Homo sapiens: one gene and its partners. The protein of the gene in region 1 interacts with the protein of each later gene in a pairwise test. Each region holds a gene or a part of one and is shown on either strand. Other genes may lie near its edges.

Region 1 (3,500 bases):
GTGCTAGGATTACAGGAGTGAGCCACCGTGCCCAGCCCCAGTATGATATCTGTGGAAGGGAAAGGTGATCAAGATGACTGTGAACTAAACTGTGACATAGGGCTGGAGAGCTGATATACCCATCAGCCCAGACCGCCAAGGGGCATTGCCGGCCTTACCAGCTGGATGCAAACTGCTTCTGCTGGGCCTTATGGACAGGTATAAAGAGAAGGGCATTCGTCAGATCAACAGCTGCATGCAGTAGCAGGGACCAGAGATGTGTGAATTTTGCAGTCACCACTTGGTTAAGTTTACAATAATCCACTATCAGTTTCTAAAGTCCATCTGTCTTCTGCACAGGCCAAATCGGAGAGTTGAATGGGGATGTGGTGGGGGTCACCACCCCCGCCTCCTCCAAGTCCTTGATGGTGGTGCTAATCTCGGCAGCCCCACCCCAGGGATGCAATGTTGCTTTTGATGTACTATTTTCCCAGGCAGAGGCAACGCTAATGGTTTCCACTTGGCCTTTCCCACCATAACAGCCCTCACCGCACAAGGCAGGGAACCAGTGTGTGGATTCTGCCAGGTGCTAAGTATGTCAACTTTGAATCTGGAACCAGGAAATAACCCCAGGATGGGTTCAGGGATCCACGGGAGCCACCAGGAGTCAAACCTAAGCTAAAACTCCATTGATCACCTGACCTCCATAAGCCCCTTCTCTGACTAGTGGGCCACAGTGAGTGATATTTTTGGTTTCCTGGAATCAGTATCAGTTCAGTAACCAGTTATCCCCGAACAATCTAATTATTTCCCTTTCCTCAATACATATTCACTCTGGTAAAAGGTCACAGGTCCCTTTGGGGAAGGCTAGGAGAAAAATTAATAGCATAAACTTTCTCTAGTGTACTGAGGTCCTTCTTCAAAGGGATCCAGCTTCCAATTCATTCATTCATTCATTCACTTATTCATTCACTTATTCATTCATTCGTTCACTTATTCATTCATTCGTTCACTCATTCATTCATTCACTCATTCATTCATTCATGGGGGCTTAGTTGTGTAAACTGGGTTAAGTCTGGGAAGTTGATTGAGGGCTGTGATTTTCTGTTTTAATTATTTTTCTGTTTTAATTATTCAAGTTAGACTTTTTTTCATTTGACCTGTAAGTTTCTGCTTATACAGAAAACTTAAAAGAATCAAGTAACTTATAAGATCAAGTAAGAATTTCACGGGTTTCCTGTCTATTTCACTTCTAGGAACACCATGATTAACTATCCAATGCCATAGATCCACACAAGTCAGACTATTCTGACGGCAGCTTTGCCTCTGCCGTCCATTAGGTAACCACACTCACCTTGCCTTGGATGGCTGAGTACTGCCACTTGGCCGCTGCACTCCAAATGCAATTACTCCCGTTGCATTTAAGTTTTCCATTTGAGTGACTGCGGCTCCCACTGTAAGGGCTGGATCACGGAGCTCTTCAGGGATGCTGGGGCCCCCTCACAAATCTATTTCTCAACGTATGCGTGAAAGATCTGTCTTCTGAACCTTCCCAGTGTGGGTGAGTAGCTTTTAAGAGACAAATCCACTCCAGCATTCCAATGTCCCTAAGCCTTTGAATCCCTAACTCTACATGAAACCTAAGCCTATGAATCCCTAACTCTACATTAAACCAAAGGAGACCCAGAAACTCCAACTTACTCACAGTGGGTCATCCTTTGATCCATGTTCCAGTCAGCCAACCAAACAGATCTCTTCTTAACCCCCTGAGCTACAACATCAAGTGCAGAATCTCCGCTTAGTGGGCCCATATCCATAAATTCGGCCAGATCCAACTTCATGTTCGTTCCACATCCTAATATCCACTCCCACACATGCTCCCTTGGTGTCTGCTTGTATAAATTAGAAAACTCAAGTGGTTCTCTTGGTGTGGAGTGCAGCTCCTCACTCTGACCTTGGAAAGGGTGTGACCAGATTGGCCACACTCTGACTGTCTGGCAAGGTGTGTTCACAACTGGGGCACCCGTCAAGCCCTTGTCACAGGTAGGTTTTTCCAACCCTGGAATCCTATATTCCTACTCAGCAGTCATTTCTCAAGTGTGGAGTTTGCATCCTGATATTTTCTTCATCTTGTGCTCAAATCACCCAATGCCTCCCTAGTTTTCCAAGAGACGCCCAAGGGTGGCAGAGGTTCTTGGATTCCTCCACCCATCGCCTACGCAGTAAACTCAAGAGGGTCAGGCTAAGCTTCAGGTCAGATTCAGAGCTTGTTGACAAACCATTCTCACAGTCACATCTCCTGACACCCAGCCCTGCCACAAATCCCATGCCTGCATTGCACAAGGTCTGGACCTCAATGGCAGGCAAGGCTGGGCTGTGCCTTGGCGGATTCTCTTCCCCATCTCCAAGAAAGGCCCCGAGAGCCTAAGCCTGTTGTTGATGTGGTCTGTCTCATGACCACTGGACTCATTTATTTTTAACGTTGGGCAATGAACAGAACTTTTAAAACACAAAGCAAACAGGCAGCTTCCCAAAGGTTTCAGGGGGTTGGCAGCAGGACAGATCCCCCAATGTGCTGTTGGGTTTTGCCATCCTCCCTTTGTCCAAGCAAGGAAGGAGCCTCAAGCCCAAGTCAGAAAGGACGTACATCTCCCGACTCTTGCCCCGCATAGAGTAACAGTCAACCTCTTTGAGATGTGATGCTTCCTTTAAATGCTTCTTAGGAAGAAGCTACAGATGACCTGACATCTTGTATTTGCTTCAAAATAATCCAGCGTGTGTGTGTATGTGTGCATATATGTGTGTGCATATGTATGTGTGTGTACACATGTGCACATCTTCTGTGAGCATAAGTATGCATGTGCATATGTGAGTATGTGTATGTGTGTGCATGCGAGGTGAGGAAACCTGATCGCTCATTATACTCTGCCTCTAACTTTGGTGTGTTTGACATTTTCCATAATAACAAAAAATTTCACTAAAAAAATGAGCCCATGCTTCTTGAAGAAAAGGCTCAGGTGGTGGAGGTGACAAACTTACTGGTGAAGGGCTTGGGTGCCAAGTCTGGATTCGAGTTTTGGCTCCACCATTCCCTTGCCGCGAGACCTTAGCCAAGTTACCTGCAATCCTCAGCAGAATGGACATGGAGGCAAAACCCACTTCTCAGGGTCCTCAGGAAGCCCATGAGTCAATGCGTCAAGGACTCAGATCAGAGCCAGTACTCGCACGCACCGTGAAACCATGAAACCATTTCCCGCTATTATTATGCTTAGGATTCAAACAAAGTCACGTCCATAAAGCACTCTGTAGCACAGAGCCGGGCACCTGGCTGCCAGTGGAACTTTAGACTGGGGGAGATGTTATCAGATAACTGGGGGAGGGGAGAGCACTCACTGAAAGTCCAAAATCGAAGTCCCTTAGAGTCTGGATTTCACTGATCTAGTGTTGAGGGCTGGGGAGAGGATAACACACCCCTGGGCAGACTGAGGCACACCTGTACCTGACCTTGTGCTGTCGTCTGA
Region 2 (3,500 bases), on another chromosome or scaffold:
GTGAAGGAAGATTCCAGTTCGGGCTTGGAAAATAGTTCTGAAAAACAGTGAGTGGGAATGGAGCGAGATGTGTCTGGCCACCACCCTAAAGACCCTTCCTGGAGAGGCCCTTGGCTCAGGTGCTCTTGGCAGAACCAACTTCCAACTTCCAGCAAAAAGTTTTCCTTTGCTTCTCATGTACCTAACGATCACCCCAGTAAGGAGCTAGGGTTCATTCTTTGCCTAGGATTCCAATGGCAGGTTTTCCTTTCTTGTTAATCCAATTTATTTCAATGACAAGGATTAGAAAAGTTTTGCAACTTGTGGCCAGGTGTGGTGGCTCATGCCTGTAATCCCAGCACTTTGGGAGGCAGAGGTGGGTGGATCACCTGAGGTCAGGAGTTGAGACCAGCCTGGGCAACATGGTGAAACCCCATCTCTACTAAAAATATAAAATTAGCCAGCATGGTGGTGGGCGCCTGTAATCCCAGATACTTGGGAGGCTGAGGCAAGAGAATCCCTTGAACCCAGGAGACAGAGATTGCAGTGAGCCGAGATTGCTCCACTGCACTCCAGCCTGGGCAACAAGAATGAAACTCCTTAAGCTAGCAGAAGGCAAGAAATAACTAAAATCAGAGCAGAACTGAAGGAAATAGAGACACAAAAAACCCTTCAAAAAATTAATGAATCCAGGAGCTGGTTTTTTGAAAGGATCAACAAAATTGATAGACCGCTAGCAAGCCTAATAAAGAAAAAAAGAGAGAAGAATCAAATACACGCAATAAAAAATGATAAAGGGGATATCATCACCGATCCCACAGAAATACAAACTACCATCAGAGAATACTACAAACACCTCTAAGCAAATAAACTAGAAAATCTAGGAGAAATGGATAAATTCCTCAACACACACACTCTCCCAAGACTAAACCAGGAAGAAGTTGAATCTCTGAATAGACCAATAACGGGATCTGAAATTGTGGCAATAATCAATAGCTTACCAACCAAAAAGAGTCCAGGACCAGATGGATTCACAGCCGAATTCTACCAGAGGTACAAGGAGGAACTGGTACCATTCCTTCTGAAACTATTCCAGTCAATAGAAAAAGAGGGAATCCTCCCTCAGGATGATGAGGCCAGCATCATCCTGATACCAAAGCCGGGCAGAGATACAACCAAAAAAGAGAATTTTAGACCAATATCCTTGATGAACATTGATGCAAAAATCCTCAATAAAATACTGGCAAACCAAATCCAGCAGCACATCAAAAAGCTTATCCACCATGATCAAGTGGGCTTCATCCCTGGGATGCAAGGCTGGTTCAATATACACAAATCAATAAATGTAATCCAGCATATAAACAGAACCAAAGACAAAAACCACATGATTATCTCAATAGACGCAGAAAAGGCCTTTGACAAAATTCAACAACCCTTCATGATAAAAACTCTCAATAAATTAGGTATTGATGGGACGTATCTCAAAATAATAAGAGCTATCTATGACAAACCCACAGCCAATATCATACTGAATGGGCAAAAACTGGAAGCATTCCCTTTGAAAACTGGCACAAGACAGGGATGCCTTCTCTCACCACTCCTATTCAACATAGTGTTGGAAGTTCTGGCCAGGGCAATTAGGCAGGAGAAGGAAATAAAGGGTATTCAATTAGGAAAAGAGGAAGTCAAATTGTCCCTGTTTGCAGATGACATGATTGGATATCTAGAAAACCCCATTGTCTCAGCCCAAAATCTCCTTAAGCTGATAAGCAACTTCAGCAAAGTCTCAGGATACAAAATCAATGTACAAAAATCACAAGCATTCTTATACACCAATAACAGACAAACAGAGAGCCAAATCATGAGTGAACTCCCATTCACAATTGCTTCAAAGAGAATAAAACACCTAGGAATCCAACTTACAAGGGACATGAAGGACCTCTTCAAGGAAAACTACAAACCACTGCTCAATGAAATAAAAGAGGATACAAACAAATGGAAGAACATTCCATGGTCATGGGTAGGAAGAATCAATATCGTGAAAATGGCCATACTGCCCAAGGTAATTTATAGATTCAATGCCATCCCCATCAAGCTACCAATGACTTTCTTCACAGAATTGGAAAAAACTACTTTAAAGTTCATATGGAACCAAAAAAGAGCCCGCATCACCAAGTCAATCCTAAGCCAAAAGAACAAAGCTGGAGACATCACGCAACCTGACTTCAAACTATACTACAAGGCTACAGTAACCAAAACAGCATGGTACTGGTACCAAAACAGAGATATAGATCAATGGAACGGAACAGAGCCCTCAGGAATAACGCCGCATATCAACAACTATCTGATCTTTGACAAACCTGAGAAAAACAAGCAATGGGGAAAGGATTCCCTATTTAATAAATGGTGCTGGGAAAACTGGCTAGCCACATGTAGAAAGCTGAAACTGGATCCCTTCCTTACACCTTATACAAAAATTAATTCAAGATGGATTAAAGACTTAAACATTAGACCTAAAACCATAAAAACCCTAGAAGAAAACCTAGGCATTACCATTCAGGACATAGGCATGGGCAAGGACTTCATGTCTAAAACACCAAAAGCAATGGCAACAAAAGCCAAAATTGACAAATGGGCTCTAATTAAACTAAAGAGTTTCTGCACAGCAAAAGAAACTACCATCAGAGTGAACAGGCAACCTACAAAATGGGAGAAAATTTTTGCAACCTACTCATCTGACAAAGGGCTAATATCCAGAATCTACAATGAACTCAAACAAATTTACAAGAAAAAAACAAACAACCCCATCAAAAAGTGGGCGAAGGACATGAACAGACACTTCTCAAAAGAAGACATTTATACAGCCAAAAAACACATGAAAAAATGCTCACCATCACTGGCCATCAGAGAAATGCAAATCAAAACCGCTATGAGATACCATCTCACACCAGTTAGAATGGCGATCATTAAAAAGTCAGGAAACAACAGGTGCTGGAGAGGATGTGGAGAAACAGGAACACTTTTACACTGTTGGTGGGACTGTAAACTAGTTCAACCATTGTGGAAGTCAGTGTGGCGATTCCTCAGGGATCTAGAACTAGAAATACCATTTGACCCAGCCATCCCATTACTGGGTATATACCCAAAGGACTATAAATCATGCTGCTATAAAGACACATGCACACGTATGTTTATTGTGGCACTATTCACAATAGCAAAGACTTGGAACCAATCCAAATGTCCAACAATGATAGACCAGATTAAGAAAATGTGGCACATATACACCATGGAATACTATGCAGCCATAAAAAACGATGAGTTCATGTCCTTTGTAGGGACATGGATGAAATTGGAAATCATCATTCTCAGTAAACTATAGCAAGGACAAAAAACCAAACACCGCATCTTCTCACTCATAGGTGGGAATTGAACAATGAGAACACATGGACACAGGAAGGGGAACATCACACTCTGGGGACTGTAGTGGGGTGGGGGGAGGGGGGAGGGATAGCATTAGGAGA
Region 3 (3,500 bases), on another chromosome or scaffold:
TTTCAAAATTTTAGAATCTGACTGTTGCAAAAGGAATTTCTGTCTGGTCTTGCAGCAATATGCTTTCCATGAAGTCTATGACCTTCTGATTTGACCACATTATTTGGAACTCAAATAAGGAAGTCAACTCCACAATTGAGAAAATTATCCTCCTCTCAGGTCTGTCTGTTTCCTCCACTAGAATATCAGCTCCATAAGGGCAGGGGCCATGATGAGTCTTTTTTTTTTTTTGCTGCATCTCCAGTACTCGGAACAGTGCCTTGCACAGAGGCAGTGGCTCCATAAATATTTGTTGCACAAATGAGTGAGACAATGAAAGGGAATTTGACCTATTAAATGGACAGTATTCCCTGTGCTCTAGTGTAACACCACCCAGCTGGAGAAGGCATGGCAAATATGGGGAAAGCCTGGGATCACCTGGCACTCCTGAGTGGCAGAGGAAGAGACCAGACCACATCCTGATTACTCCTTTAATAAATGACAGTGCCCTCTGGGGTTGGGACTGGCAAGTTGGTCTCTGCCTGGTCAAAGGCTTCTTCCCCTCTAAACCCTTCCCTCGTAGGTATCTCCACCTTATTATTAATGTGGGCTAAGCAAGAGTGGGCAGCTTGGGTCCCACATGCTGTTCTGATATCAACAGCTGTGACCAGAGATTGCGTCATAGAGCACAGGTCTATGCAGTATATGCAAATATTGAAAATGTGAAAACAGCCATAAGGCTCTACATTTAGTTTTGTTTGTGATTCAATTTATTTATTTTTTTCATGGTGCTGTATACACTGAGAACAATTTCCCATATTCCTCATTGGGTTTTTCTTATTTAGGTTGTAGCCCAGCCCCAGAGGCACCACTTACTCATAGATGAGCATATAATGAAACCTCTGTACAACTTCAAACATGTAACTGACTTGGGACCGATTTGGCATGTAAAAGAATGACATAAATACATGTTTATGAGGTGAGAGCAGCCAAGCTCACAGCTGTGGTCAGGGCCCAGTGCTAAATGTTGGCTGTGGCCCCTCACCGTTCAGTGTAGGCTAGACTGAGAAGTATGTAGCCTGCTGTCTCTGGTCTCTGAGGTTCCCGGGGCCACCCTAGAGTTTCCTGAGGAGTGGGCATCTGGTCTTGGTGAGGCAATTGAAGTAGTAACTTTGTAGTCAAACTGATATTTTTTTTGAGATGGAGTTTTGCTTGTCGCCCAGGCTGGAGTGCAATGGCTCAATCTCAGCTCACCGCAACCTCCACCTTCCCGGGTTCAAGCATTTCTCTTGCCTCAGTCTCCCAAGTTGCTGGGATTACAGGTGCCTGCCACCACACCTGGCTAATTTTTTTGTATTTTTAGTACAGATGGAGTTTCACCATGTTGGTCAGGCTGGTCTCAAACTCCTGACCTCAGGTGATCTGTCCACCTCAGCCTCCCAAAGTGCTGGGATTATAGGCGTGAGCCACTGTGCCTGCCCAAACTGATCTTAAAGCTTCATTTCAGCTCAGCTTCTCCATGTAGTGGCTATGTGGCCTTAGACAAGTTACTTAACCTCTTCTGGTCTCAGTTTTTACTCGTATCAAATATCAGATTAAGGGTCTTCTAATTAAATGTGGCAGAATGAACACAAGCATGTATTTATTTATGTATTTATATATGTATGTATGTATTTATGTATTTATTCTGCTGAAATCCCAGTGAAATGAGGATAAGGAAATAAAAGGGCATAAATCAATAAGGACAAAAAGTGAGCACAGATGACAGCAGATGAGAGATGTCAACCAAATGTTGGAAATTAGGAACATCTGGATGAAGGGACATGACCTACTTGAGTTGCATCTTAGTTCTGTTACATTCCTGCAGTGAGAAGCTTACAATAAGCAAGCTGACTTGAGCTATGGAACCCTGGAAAGGCTCTGGAACTGCAGGAGCCAGTAGTCCTGAAGGTGGAAGTAGGCGGTGACAGACTGGGAGAGGCTGAAAAGAGGAGGACTTTGTGCATGTTTTAAGAGATTACTTGAGGATGTGCTCCATAGAAATAAGAGAGTAAGCCACCAAACAAGGAGACCTGGAATCCAGGGAGCAAGGGGTTCAACCCAGGGGGAGAGTAAAAGAATTCCCAAGTAGAGGTAAAGCCCAGCCATGTGAGGGCTCAGTCCTAATTGTCTACAGTGGAAAGTCAATAGAAAATGTCTAAAATTGAAAAATCAAAGAATAGGAGCATACCAGTAGTATGCACATGTCATTGGTGATAAATAGCAGAAAAACAGCTAAAAGAATTAAAAGTGGTTGACTCTGGGGAATGAGGCTTGGGGGTGGGTAAAGAGAGAACAGAGTGGAGACTGCATTTCTCTTCAGAGGCCCAGTAGTAATGAATTCTAAAAGTTGTGTATGTTGATTACTTTAAGGCACTAAAAGCTTTAATAGGGTAGCAGTAATTATAATAATCAACACCTCACCGGATTATTGTGAGAATTAAAGAATTGCACATGATTCATGTGTTAGGCACCCTGAACAGTGTCTGGCATGCAGCACATAGTAGTTTTACTTGTTATATTTTAAAGTTAATTATTATTATATTAATTATTAATATTAGCCAAAATAGTACCTTCTCTTACCATCTCCCACTCCCAACTGTGGCTAGTCTGGCACCATGCAGAATTCTGGATAAGAATGCCAAGTTTTGGCTGGGCGCAGTGGCTCATGCCTGTAATCCTAGCACTTTGGGAAGCCGAGGCGGGTGGATCAAGAGGTCAGGAGATCGAGACTATCCTGGCTAACACGGTGAAACCCCATCTCTACTAAAAATACAAAAAAATTAGCTGGGCGTGGTGGCAGGTGCCTGTAGTCCCAGCTACTTGGGAGGCTGAGACAGGAGAATGGCGTGAACCTGGGAGGCAGAGCTTGTAGTGAGCCAAGATCACGCCACTGCACTCCAGCCTGGGAAACAAAGCAAAACTCCATCTCAAAAAAAAAAAAAAAAAAAGAATGCTAGGTTTTGTGGAGACTTACAGTCTCCAGCCTTTCTGGAGGAGGTCAGAGTTGACTGACAACATCCCAGTCTGTGATTGGTCACCCCCCCCGACCCCCTTCCAATAGCCACAGCTGAACTCTTTTCATTCTGTATATCCAAGGTCATTCCAGTGTTACCTAATGTACCCTGAGGCTCAAGATTCTGGTCTAGTAAGGCTGTCTGCCCCCAGGGGACAACTGCGTTTCCTCCCAGACATGTGGCCAAGTGCTCTGTGCAACTTGTGGTTTTGCTACCAAGTAAAATTGTCCCACAGGAAAGTCTCAAGTTCAAGAAAAAACAGCATAACAAAATCACAGAAAATCACAAAAGCATCCCTAGTTCACTCAACTATGAGCTTTATTGTTGGAAATTTGGTTCATTGCTTTTACGCAATTTACTTCCCAGGCCTGGGTACTATTTTTGGCAGCTGCACCAAGCCAACTTCATAGCTAAGGTGAAGATGTGTTTTGTAGTTTTACCAATACTGCAAGTTTTAACATCTCT
Region 4 (3,500 bases), on another chromosome or scaffold:
CTACGACCAGCAAATCTCTGTGCTTGACCAGTCATAAAACGAAGAAAGGTTCAGAAAGCTACAAATTCCTTACGTAATTTCTCCAAGATCTCCTCATCAGACATTTTAGGCTTCTTCTTCTGCTTCTCAGTATTCCGGGTCAAAGCATCTGGTGGAGTGGTGTTATTTTCAGTAGGTGAAATGGGAGATGTAGCCACGTCCCGAGTTGGAGTGACAGGAAGTGGTTCAATCACAGACCGTGTGTATACCTGCATTATTAGTGCAAAATTTTGGCAAGACCAGCCTTTGTTAGCATAGGGGAACCTCTCCTAGATGTGAGGTTAGAACATCCACAGAGCAAACCCCAATAAACTCATCCTTTCTCTTATGTCAAAATCTATATTACTCCTCCTCTGTGCCCAGGCCCACCCATTCTGGGTAAAATGGCCTTCCTTACTCTCACTGTAAACAAAAGAAGTGAGAGTCTCAGCACTAAAGATATTCAATAGAGGCTAGACAACTATCAAAAGAAATTAGTTAAAGACAATTCTATTAGATAAGAATCCCCTTCATCTGTAATATTTTATGCTTCCCCAAGCTAAAAGAAATATCCTGTATTCCCCAAGCTAAAAGAAATATTCTGTAACAAAAGAAATTAGTTGAAGACAATTCTATTAGGTAAGAATCCCCTTCATTTGTAATATTTTATGCTTCCCCAAGTTAAAAGACATATCCTGTAGTAATGCAAATAGCACTTTGCATTACTAGTACAACACCAACTTCTATTGAGTTACTCCCTCCTTACATCCTGAACCCTTGCAGGGAAGGAACTACTTTTGTTCTTCATCAAGAGGTAGTAGAGTGTGATGATTTAGAACATGGACTCTGGAACCTGACTGCCTGAACTTAAATCCCAACTCTTATTATTCTTACCTTCTGCATGACTTTGGGCAGGTTACTTAACTTCTCTGTGTTTCAGTTTCCTCATCTATAAAATGGTGATAATAATGATAACTATCTTTTGGGGTTGCTGTAGGAGTAAACTGATTAATATGTGAGGTAATCAGACTCATCCCCAGCAGACATTAAGCACTCAAATTTTACCTTTTAAAAATATTAAATGTCCTATTCATTCATTTACATAACAAACATTTACTGAGAATCTATTTGTTGCCTCACCCTGTACAAAATGCTGCCCCAACCTCTCATTCTTATAAAGGAGGTGAGAAAATCATAACTACAAGGCAGAAAGTGATACATGTTATAAAGAAATAAGCAAGCTATATACTACTGAGGTTCAGAAGTGATCATAAATTATACTTCCTTTCCCCAGGAGATGCTTCAAGGTATTTAACAGATTTTATCATAAAAATATCACAATTATCTTTTGCATAGTCCATAAACAGTATAAGGACAGGGAATGTGGGTCATTCATCCGTGAGTTCCTCCATCTAACCACTTACTAAAAGAAAGCAAGCATTCAGGTAAATATTTGATGGAATAAATAAACAAACAGGATCCTGCAACTGGATCCTGAAGGACGGATAGGTTTCTACAAAGATAGAGGATCATTTATCTATGATGATCATTTATCTGCGATGATGCAAAGCCATTGGCAACAGTGGGACTCAAACCCATGGCTCCACAGAGACTAAAGCCAACTACATCCTGCACCTTGGACTGCTTGACCATGCTACCTTTTGACTGGACAGGCTTTTAATAGGTGGAAATGGGAGAGAACATTCCAGTAGTGGGAACAGCAATAAGCCAAGACGCTGAGATCAGAGGCAATGGCTTCCTTCCTGATTACTACTCTAGCATAATGATTTCTCAATTTTCTATTCTTGTACCTGTAGACAAACTATATCCCAGGCACCTAAACCTGTACTTCCATGCCTTGTCCTCTTTTGCCTGTCCTGATATATCTCTTTGAAGACAGAAACCTTGCCTTTTCCTTCTTTAATAGTCTCCTTCTCTGGCTCCTAGCACAGGTTTGTACACACAAAAATACCACTGTGCTATGGTGGAAAACAACCTGGAGTTGGGGTTAATTACCTGCTTTCAAATCCTGGCTCTTTTGTTTACTAAGAGACTGGGCAGATCAATTCACCTCTCCAAATCTCAGCTGCTTCTTCTATAAATTAGGAATTACCAATACCTTTTTAGAAAGAAATGCTATGAAGATCAATTAATTAATTAATTCAATATTTACTGTCCTCTGATATTTACCCACCTCTGCAGGTGCCAAGAACTATGTTAAGCACTAGAAATACATACATATGGATTTCCTCTACTTTTTGAGGTGTTCATGGTTTAGTGGGGAAAAAAATGTTTTAAATGAACATGTCTACAAACCAAAAAAAACCATATCAGTGTTAACGACTCTCCAATTTTGAAGCGCATTTTCCCTTGAGGTAACTTTGTGACCTACAGAGATGATTCCACAGATTCTGTTTGTAAGTTCTCATCCTAATAGGTCATATAATTCCTTTGAATTTCCTCCACAGCATCTCCAATAGTCATTCAACCAATTTCTGTTTGAACACCTCCCTGAATGCTGTATTCCAGAGGTAGCCCTTTTTTTTTTCTTTCATGATCACAGAAGTGCTAGATGGTTCCTTCATTATGGAGCTCTCATCTTAGTAAAAGACCTAAACAAAGAAACACTAGTAGAGTATCATCTGATGGTAGGTCAGTGCTCAGTGATGCCAAATTAAGTAAAAGGCACAGGGACTAGATGTTTCAAAGCAAGGTTAGAGGGACCATGGCTATTCTCAGAGATGCAGGAACCTCAAAGGAAGTTAAATAGAAATCACTGCCAACATCCGGCATCAAAATGCACTCCTGATGCCCAGCATATTAATAGCACTAATGTATTTATATATTCTCTTGGGTCTTTCAATATTATCAATAATGCTCTAAGAGGCTGAACACTGCACATTTAACAGAGAAGAAAAGATCTGTAGCAAGACAATTTGTTGCTTCCCTGGAGACTGGAATAATTTATGTTAGTCCTGCACTAAGTAGCATCAATCCTATATATCTTCCTGTCCTATCTGTGGAGAACCGAGACTGGACTGGTATAAACATCAATTACCTAGGACACTTTGGGACTATCTGCAAACCAATGATAAATAAACACATGATTTTTTGTCTTTAATCATACAGAAAGTACCTTTAGTCAAGGTAGTTCAGTGATTTCACCAGCTCCAAAATCTAAGGACGCCTACCAGAATATTAAACTTCTAGGTATCAGCACCAACTCCTCCCTCTCCCCACTTACTCTAATAAATCACAAAACTGGCCAGGTCCCCAAAGACTCACAGATTTTGTGTGCTCTGGGCGTGGAGCAATCACTGGTGGTGGGGTAGCATCATCATCATCATCATCCTCATCTTCTGAAACTGGTGGCACTGCAGGAGTCTCAGACACAGCCTTCACATTCTGTGCAAAGAAGAAAAGCAAGATGCATCTGGTCCAGCTGCCATGGAACTTAACTATCAGGATCACCAAACCTCCCA

What was found. Proteins that work in one complex are often made in the same cells at the same time.
Region 2: the proteins of SPSB1 (region 1) and PECAM1 interact in binary tests that used the Homo sapiens proteins (3 or more experiments, as listed by UniProt).
Region 3: the proteins of SPSB1 (region 1) and TRIM55 interact in a two-hybrid assay, tested with the Homo sapiens proteins (one large-scale study listed by BioGRID and IntAct).
Region 4: the proteins of SPSB1 (region 1) and PAK1 interact in binary tests that used the Homo sapiens proteins (3 or more experiments, as listed by UniProt).

What each region holds. Positions count from the first base shown.
Region 1 is NC_000001.11:9,295,894-9,299,393, reverse strand, and holds part of SPSB1 (SPRY domain-containing SOCS box protein 1), read right to left. Parts: intron 1-3,500. UniProt on the Homo sapiens protein: Substrate recognition component of a SCF-like ECS (Elongin BC-CUL2/5-SOCS-box protein) E3 ubiquitin-protein ligase complex which mediates the ubiquitination and subsequent proteasomal degradation of target proteins.
Region 2 is NC_000017.11:64,363,361-64,366,860, forward strand, and holds part of PECAM1 (platelet endothelial cell adhesion molecule precursor), read right to left. Parts: intron 38-3,500; coding exon 1-37. UniProt on the Homo sapiens protein: Cell adhesion molecule which is required for leukocyte transendothelial migration (TEM) under most inflammatory conditions.
Region 3 is NC_000008.11:66,130,129-66,133,628, reverse strand, and holds part of TRIM55 (tripartite motif-containing protein 55), read right to left. Parts: intron 1-3,500. UniProt on the Homo sapiens protein: E3 ubiquitin ligase that plays an important role in regulating cardiac development and contractility, muscle growth, metabolism, and fiber-type differentiation.
Region 4 is NC_000011.10:77,355,595-77,359,094, forward strand, and holds part of PAK1 (serine/threonine-protein kinase PAK 1), read right to left. Parts: intron 3,424-3,500; coding exon 3,304-3,423; intron 249-3,303; coding exon 74-248; intron 1-73. UniProt on the Homo sapiens protein: Protein kinase involved in intracellular signaling pathways downstream of integrins and receptor-type kinases that plays an important role in cytoskeleton dynamics, in cell adhesion, migration, proliferation, apoptosis, mitosis, and in vesicle-mediated transport processes.